Linked DNA regions of Homo sapiens. The protein of the gene in region 1 interacts with the protein of each later gene in a pairwise test. Each region holds a gene or a part of one and is shown on either strand. Other genes may lie near its edges.

Evidence for each region. The genes of interacting proteins can lie anywhere in the genome.
Region 2: the proteins of PHLDB3 (region 1) and CHTOP interact in binary tests that used the Homo sapiens proteins (3 or more experiments, as listed by UniProt).

What each region holds. Positions count from the first base shown.
Region 1 is NC_000019.10:43,498,191-43,501,840, forward strand, and holds part of PHLDB3 (pleckstrin homology-like domain family B member 3), read right to left. Parts: coding exon 3,544-3,650; intron 1-3,543.
Region 2 is NC_000001.11:153,632,530-153,636,279, forward strand, and holds the start of CHTOP (chromatin target of PRMT1 protein), read left to right. Parts: upstream 1-1,536; 5' UTR 1,537-1,814; exon of another isoform or gene 1,815-1,832; intron 1,833-3,750. UniProt on the Homo sapiens protein: Plays an important role in the ligand-dependent activation of estrogen receptor target genes. May play a role in the silencing of fetal globin genes.

The DNA.
Region 1 (3,650 bases):
TAGTGGAGTGTGTTAGTGCACGCCTGTAGTTCCAGCTACTCGGGAGGCTGAGGTGGGAGGATTGCTTGAGCCAGGGAGATTGAGGCTGCACTGAGCTGTGTTTGCATCACTGTTCCAGTCTGGGTGACAGAGGGAGACACTGTCTCGAAAGGGAAGGAAAGGAGAAAAGACAGAAAAGAAAGAAAGAGAGAAAGAGGGAAGGAACGAAGGAAGGAGAGAGAGAAAGAAAAGAGGGAGGGAGGGAAGAGAAAGAAAAAGAAAGAAAAGGAAAGGAGGAGAAAGAGAAACAAAAAGGAAGGAAGGAAGGAATGATGGAAGGAAGGAAAGAAGAAAGAAAATTAATGAATGCAAAACATATTCATGTTATGTGATACGGTGGATGCAGAAGTGGATTGTGTCTGGGCCCTGTCCTCCAAGTGGGAACACAGCCAGTTGGAAAGATCAGGGCAGTAAAATCCAGAGACTGTGGGAACCCAGAATGAAGAACAATGTCAGCCAGAGGTTGAGGCTGCAGTGATTGCACTACTGCACTCCAGCCTGGGCGACAGTGAGACCCTGTCTCAAAATCAAAACAAAACAAAACAATCAGGGAGCATTTGGATCTGGGAAAATAAAAGGAGCTAGAAGAGCATTTTGGGCAGAGGAAGCGGCTTGGCACAAATGCATGAAAGTTGAAAAGTACAAGAAGTCTGGGGGACAAACTCCAGCCAGGGTGGAAGAGGATGTGGTGGTGGGAAGAACGTGGTGGGAGAGGACAGTGGGAAGGCCAGCTCGTCCAGCTCACGGGGGGTTTGGTCAACCTGGGGATATGGGGAGCCTCAGAAGGACTGAAAGGATGGGGTAGGAGCTAGGAATCATCCCTCTGGGAGATGGGTTACAGGGGTGGAGAGCAGCTGCCTCGGGAGTCCTCCAAGCAATGAGGGTGAGACCTAAGCTGGGGCCTGGGCGGTGGGGCTGAAAAATAGATGGACTAGACAGAGAGGATCAGGAAGCAGAAAGGATAGGACATGGTGGTTGACGGGCTTGGAGGTGAGAGACAGGGAAGTGTACAGGGCAAAGTCCAGGACTCTGGCCTGGTGACCAAAGGGACAGCAAGACAAACAGTGTGGAGAAGGGAGTTGCTGAGGTCAGCCAGACTCCTGGGTCAGAGGGAGGAGGGGCTGGGGCCTGGATTCCTGGATCTAAGGAAGGAGGATCTGGGGGTCTGGACTTCTGGGTTTGAGGGAGGAGGAGCTGGGGGTCTGGACTCCTGGGACAGAGGGAGAAGGGGCTGCGACCGAGATTTCTGGATCTGGGTGAGAAGGGAGTATGAAGTAGCCAGTACCCTAGGAAGAAGAGCACATTTCTGTCTCAGGAGAGAGGGCCTGGGAGAAATATGTGATCTTTGAGGATAAATGAGGGCCTAGGACCCAGCCTCATAAAATTCCAACATACACGACACTTGCAAAGAAAAAAACTGACAAAATCACAAGTCACCATTTTCCAACCTATAATGGTAACTGACCCAAGCAATGACCACTGATGGATGTTACAATCTTCAGATAAAAGATTCTTTTTTTTGAGATGGAGTTCTGCTCCCGTTGCCCAGGCTGGAGTGCAGTGGTGTGATCTTGGCTCCTGGGAGCTGCAACCTCCACCTCCCGGATTCAAGCAATTCTCCTGCCTCAGCCTCCCGAATAGCTGGGATTACTGGTGCCTGCCACCACGCCCAGCTAATTTTTTGTATTTTTAGTAGAGATGGGGTTTCATCATGTTGGCCAGGCTGGCCTCGAACTGCGGTGGCTCATACCTGTAATCCCAGCACTTTGGGAGGCCAAGGCGGGCAGATCACCTGAGGTCAGGAGTTCGAGACCAGCCTGACCAGCATGGAGAAACCCCATCTCTACTGAAAATACAAAATTACCCGGGCATGGTGGTGCATGCCTGTAATCCCAGCTACTGGGGAGGCTAAGACAGGAGAATCGCTTGAACCTGGGAGGCAGAGGTTACGGTGAGCCAAGATCACGCCATTGCACTCCAGCCTGGGCAACAAGAGCGAAACTGTGTCTCGCAAAAAAAAAGAGACTAGGGTGATCTTATTAGGTCGGGACAACCAGAGATGAGGTTCCCAACACTGGCTCAGGAAGCACTAAAGCACTTCTGAATACGATCAAACCTCTCCCTCTAACCAACACCCACTTGCAGAAACAGAGGCATGTTCAAGGGCACCACAGGCATGCGATCAGCCATGCTCTGCCTATAGGACAGAAGACTGGATTTTTCCAATAAACAGTATGGGGAAGACACAGCGGGTAGGAACCACCAGAGATAAAACAATGGGCAAGACGTATCAGCCAATCACACTGAACTTTGGGGACTTCATTCAAACAAGCCACCTGTTAACTGGCATTTTGAGACTGTCTGGGAAACACAAAAACTAACCAGAAATAAGACAATACTAAGAACTTATTAATTTTTTATTTTTGAGACAGGGTCTTGCTCTATCGCCCAGGTTGGAGTGCAATGTTATAATCACAGCTCACTGCAGCCTCTACCTTCTGGGCTCAATTGATCCTCCCACCTCACTCTTCTGAGTCTGAGGCCACAGGCACATGCCACCATGCCTGGTTAATTTTTGTATTTTTATTTTTCACAGAAACGGTGTCTTATTATAATATTGCCAGGCTGGTCTCATAGTCTTGGCCTCAAGCGATCCTCCCACTTTGCCCCGCCCCCCGTACCCCCCCCCCACCCCGCAAGTACTGGGATTACAGGTGTGAGCCACTTGGCCCAGCCTAAAAGGATTTCTTATCTGTCAATGATACACTCTAAACATATGTACAGACCATATGATGTCTGGGATTGGCTTTTAAAACTGGGGACGAGAACAAATTGGAGATAATGAAACAAGAATGTAAGAATATTAATCATTGATGAAGCTGGTGGGCACAGGACATGGGAGCTGCCTGACTATTGTGGGGTGGGTTTGGAAGTTTTCTTTTTCTCTTTTTTTTTTTTTTTTTTTTTTGAGACGGAGTCTCCTTCTTGTCACGCAGGCTGCTGGAGTGCAATGGTGCGATCTTGGCTCACTGCAACCTCCATCTCCCGGATTCAAGCGATTCTCCTGCCTCAGCCTCCCAAGTAGCTGGGACTACAGGCGCCCGCCACCACGCCCTGCTAATTTTTGTATTTTTAAGCAGAGACGGGGTTTCGCCATGTTGCCCAGGCTGGTCTCAAACTCCTGAGCTCAGGCAATCCGCCCGCCTCGGCCTCCCAAAGTGCTATGATTACAGGCGTGAGCCACTGCTTCCGGCCAGTTTGGAAGTTTTTACACACCCACATTTAAATAGCAAACGGACAGGGGACAAAGGAAGAGCCCCAAAAATCTCGCCCAGGGAGGGAGAAGGAAAACCAGGAGGGGCATCTGCCCCTCACTCTCTCAGGAGCCCAAATGTCTTCCTTTGGGGAATGGGGACAACCCCGGGGCGCAGGTGGCTAGGAGCACACCAACATCCATGGACCAGGAAGGACACTGCTGATGAAGACCCGGTGAGCCAAACAGACCTGTTCCCGCTGCTGGCGGCCGCGCTGCTCCGAGGCCGCCTGCTGCTCCAGCAGCTCCCGCAGCTGCTCCTCCTCCCGGCGAGCGGCCACTCGCTCCCCAGCCAGCT
Region 2 (3,750 bases), on another chromosome or scaffold:
CAAAGTGCTGAGATTACAGGCATGAGCCACCGCGCTAGGCCGAAAGAATCTTCTTTCAATCAACGAACATTTACTTAAGTGGTACTATGTGTAAACACTGTAGGAACTGAGGCTCCAGCATTAAGCAAAATAACCACGATCCTTACCCTCACATGGGTAAGGATGCTGGGCCATTACTTACACACAGACACACACAAACACATACACACACGCACACGCCCAAGTGCCAGGAAGGAAAATGAAAGGGTCTTGACGTGCCAGTGGAGCAGAGGAAGGGTTGCAGATGTGTCATTCTCTCATTCCTCAAACATATGTACACTGTATTGTGCACATAGTCATTAGAAAAATCCCTTATTGAGGCCGGGCACAGTGGCTCACGACTGTAGTCCCAGCACTTTGGGAGACAGAGGCGGGCAGATCACTTGAGGTCAGGAGTTGGAGACCAGCCTGGTGAAACCCCATCTCTACTAAAAATACAAAAATTAGCGGGGCATGGTGGTACGCGCCTGTAATTCCAGCTACTCAGGAGGCTGAGGCAGGAGAATCGCTTGAACCTGGGAGGCGGAGGTTGCAGTGAGCCGAGATGGTACCACTGCACTCCAGTCTGGGTGACACAGCGAGACTCCATCTGCAAAAAGAAAAAAAAAAGAAAGAGAGAAAAATCCCTTATTGAGCAGGAAACATAGCTTATGCCCATAATCCTAGGAGTCGGGAGGCTGAGGTGAGAGGATCACCTGAGCCCAGTAGGTCAAGGCTGCAGTGATCCGTGATTCATTGCGCCACTGACTCCAGCCTGGACAACAGAGCCAGACCCCGTCTCAAAATAACAACAACAAATCAGAGAGAGAAAAGAGAAATCCCTATGTAGGTCTGCAACAAAATAAACACGGATGGCAGGTGTGGGGGGAGGACATGGAAACGCAATCGAGGACGCAAAGGTGCCCCACCCCAAGAAGGAGTAAACAGTATCTAGGCCAAGTTGGGGAGGGGAGGAAGTGAGGAGGAAAACATGGACGGGCGGTGGTGTTGGCCGGTGCAGGATGGGAGAGGAATTTGCTCCTAATACTGGCCTCCTGGGCCTTGGCTGGAGCATTTACGGCACTTCACAACTCTCAGACTGGGCGAGTGGCCATGAGGGGAAAACCAGTGCAAATTCCCCAGGCCCAATTGTCCGGAAGAAGACGAGGCAAGTCCGCGTAAAGATTTTTAGACGGTGTACCTTGGCTAGGGAACGGAGGGGCGAGGGAATTCGGGACCCAAATCCCCTCTAAGGCCCACATTAATAACTACCCCCAAGAGGTTGCAGCGCAACCACTACTGGAACGTGAAGTCCCCGGCACGCCCCAACAACAGGACCATTGGCCACGCCCCTAGGGGCGGGGCACTGCATGGAAAGCCCCGCCTTCGCCCTAAGGCTCCGCCTCTGACCTCTGCGCAGGCGTAGCTCAAATCTTTCCCGCCCTCTAGTCGTGCGCGGATCTGACGCCTGACGTAATTGCGTAGACGCCATTTTAGCCGGTCAGACAAGCACTGGACGTGGCGGCCATTTTGTTTTGGACACCGAGCAGGAGCTGGCGGCCGCTGCAGACGAAAGGCAGGAAAGGGCAGGCCGGGTGAGCAGACGGATCGGCCGACTAGACAGCCAACCAGCAACAACGAACTGAGCTCGCATACTACCGCTTACGCATCTAACCAACCGCCCATCTAGCTAACCCGAGCCCCTCCACCGTCAACTCAGGTTCGGCCGGTCCCCGGCCCGCCTGCCGGAGCCGTGGTGGCAGCCCCGGGAGGAGCACTGGCGTCTGTTTCCTTCGGTGAGTTTCGGTAGTGAGAAGGAGCCGGGGGAGGTGCGGTCTTGAGGAGCGGAAGGGGCCGGCGGACGCGGAAAGGGGGTGGTGGCATGTGGACATAGCTACGGTGTTGGAGCGTGGAGGCCCCGGGGAGGAGGCGGAGCCCCTGCGAAGGGGCGGGGGAGGGGCTGAACTGGAACCTGGTGGCGGGATTGATGGAGGTTGGGGTTTGATAGGATAAAAAGGAAACTTGGCGGGTAGAGCAGAAGTGGAAGTCTTGACAGGGCTTTGAGGATGGTAGGGAGATTAAGAAGTACAAGACTTTGAGGAATGTTGGAAATTAATGGCGGCTTTAGGGTTAAGTTTTGTGGAGGGCTCTTTGCGAGCTAATTCCCAGGTGAATTTAGAAAACCTTTCCTACTCCCCCAGATCGTCAGTTTCTTGTTAAAGTCCCTACTTGATTCTGGAGTTGAAAGCCACTTTTGAAACTAGGCATGCATATATATATGTATATATATACATACATATATATATATATTTTTTTTTGGGGGGGGACGGAGTTTCGCTCTTGTTGCCCAGGCTGGAGTGCAATGGCACGATCTCAGCTCACTACAACTTCCGCCTCCCGGGTTCAAGCGATTCTCCTGCCTCAGCCTCCGGAGTAGCTGGGATTACAGCCATGCGCCACCACGCCCGGCTAATTTTGTATTTTTAGTAGAGACATTTCTCCATGATGGTCAAGCTGGTCTCGAACTCCCAACCTCAGGTGATCCGCCCGCCTCGGCCTCCCAAAGTGCTGGGAAAACAGGCGTGAGCCACCGCGCCCGGCCCTGCCTGTATTTTCACTGTAGATCAGTGGTTCTCAACTTTAGCTGCACATTAGAAGCACCTAGGTAGCTTTCCCCCGACCCCACAATTGGTTCATTTCCAAACCTCATTACCAGAGATTGTGGTTTAATTGATCTAGGCCCAGATGTCTGTATTTTCTATTTTTTTAATTAATTTATATTTTTATAGAAACGGGGTCTTACCATGTTGCCCAGGCTGGTCTCGAGCTCCAGGGCTCAAGCATTCCTCCCGCCTTGGCCTCCCAAAGTGCTGAGATTACAGGCGTGAAGCACCGCGCCCGCCCTGTCCGGCCCTATGTTTTAAAAGCTCCTTGGATAAGTCATATGTAGTCAAGGTTGAAAATGACTGCTCTAGAGTAAAAGCCAAACTCGGCCCGGTGCGGTGGCTCACGCCTGTAATCCCAGCACTTTGGGAGGCCCAGGTGGGTGGATCAGGTGAGGTCAGGAGTTCAAGACCACCCTGGCCAACGTGGAGAAACCCCGTCTCTACTAAAAATAAAAAAAAATTAGCCGGGCATGGTGGCACGTGCCTGTAGTCCCAGCTACTCAGGAGGCTGAGGCAGGAGAATGGCTTGAACGGGGAGGCAGAGGTTGCAGTGAACTGAGATCACGCCTCTGCACTCCAGCCTGGGCGACAGAGCCAGACTCTGTCTCAAAAAAAAAAAAAAGCCAGACTCCATACTTTGATTGCTAGATTGGCTTCTGCCGTTTTTGAGAAATTCCCGGGTATTTTGTGGGCCTTGAAGTTTGTTTGTTTGTTTGGGGTTATTTGTTTGTTTTAAAGAGATGGGGTCTCAGGCCAGAGTGCAGTGGCATGATCACGGCTCTTTGCAGCCTCCAACCCCTGGGCTCTAGCGATTCTCCCACCTCAGCTCCCCTGAGTAGCTAGGACAACAGGTGCTGGCCACCATGCACCGCTAATTTTTTTTTTTTTTTTTCTTAGTAGAGACTGGGTCTCGCTTTGTTACCCAGGCTGGTCTCTAACTCCTGGCTTCAAACCATCCTGTGCCCTTGCCCTCCCAAAGTGTTAGGGTTACAGGCGGTGAACCACCATACCCAGCCACCTTGAAGTTATAATAATCTGAGGTAATTGCCATAGAAACTTAAGAACT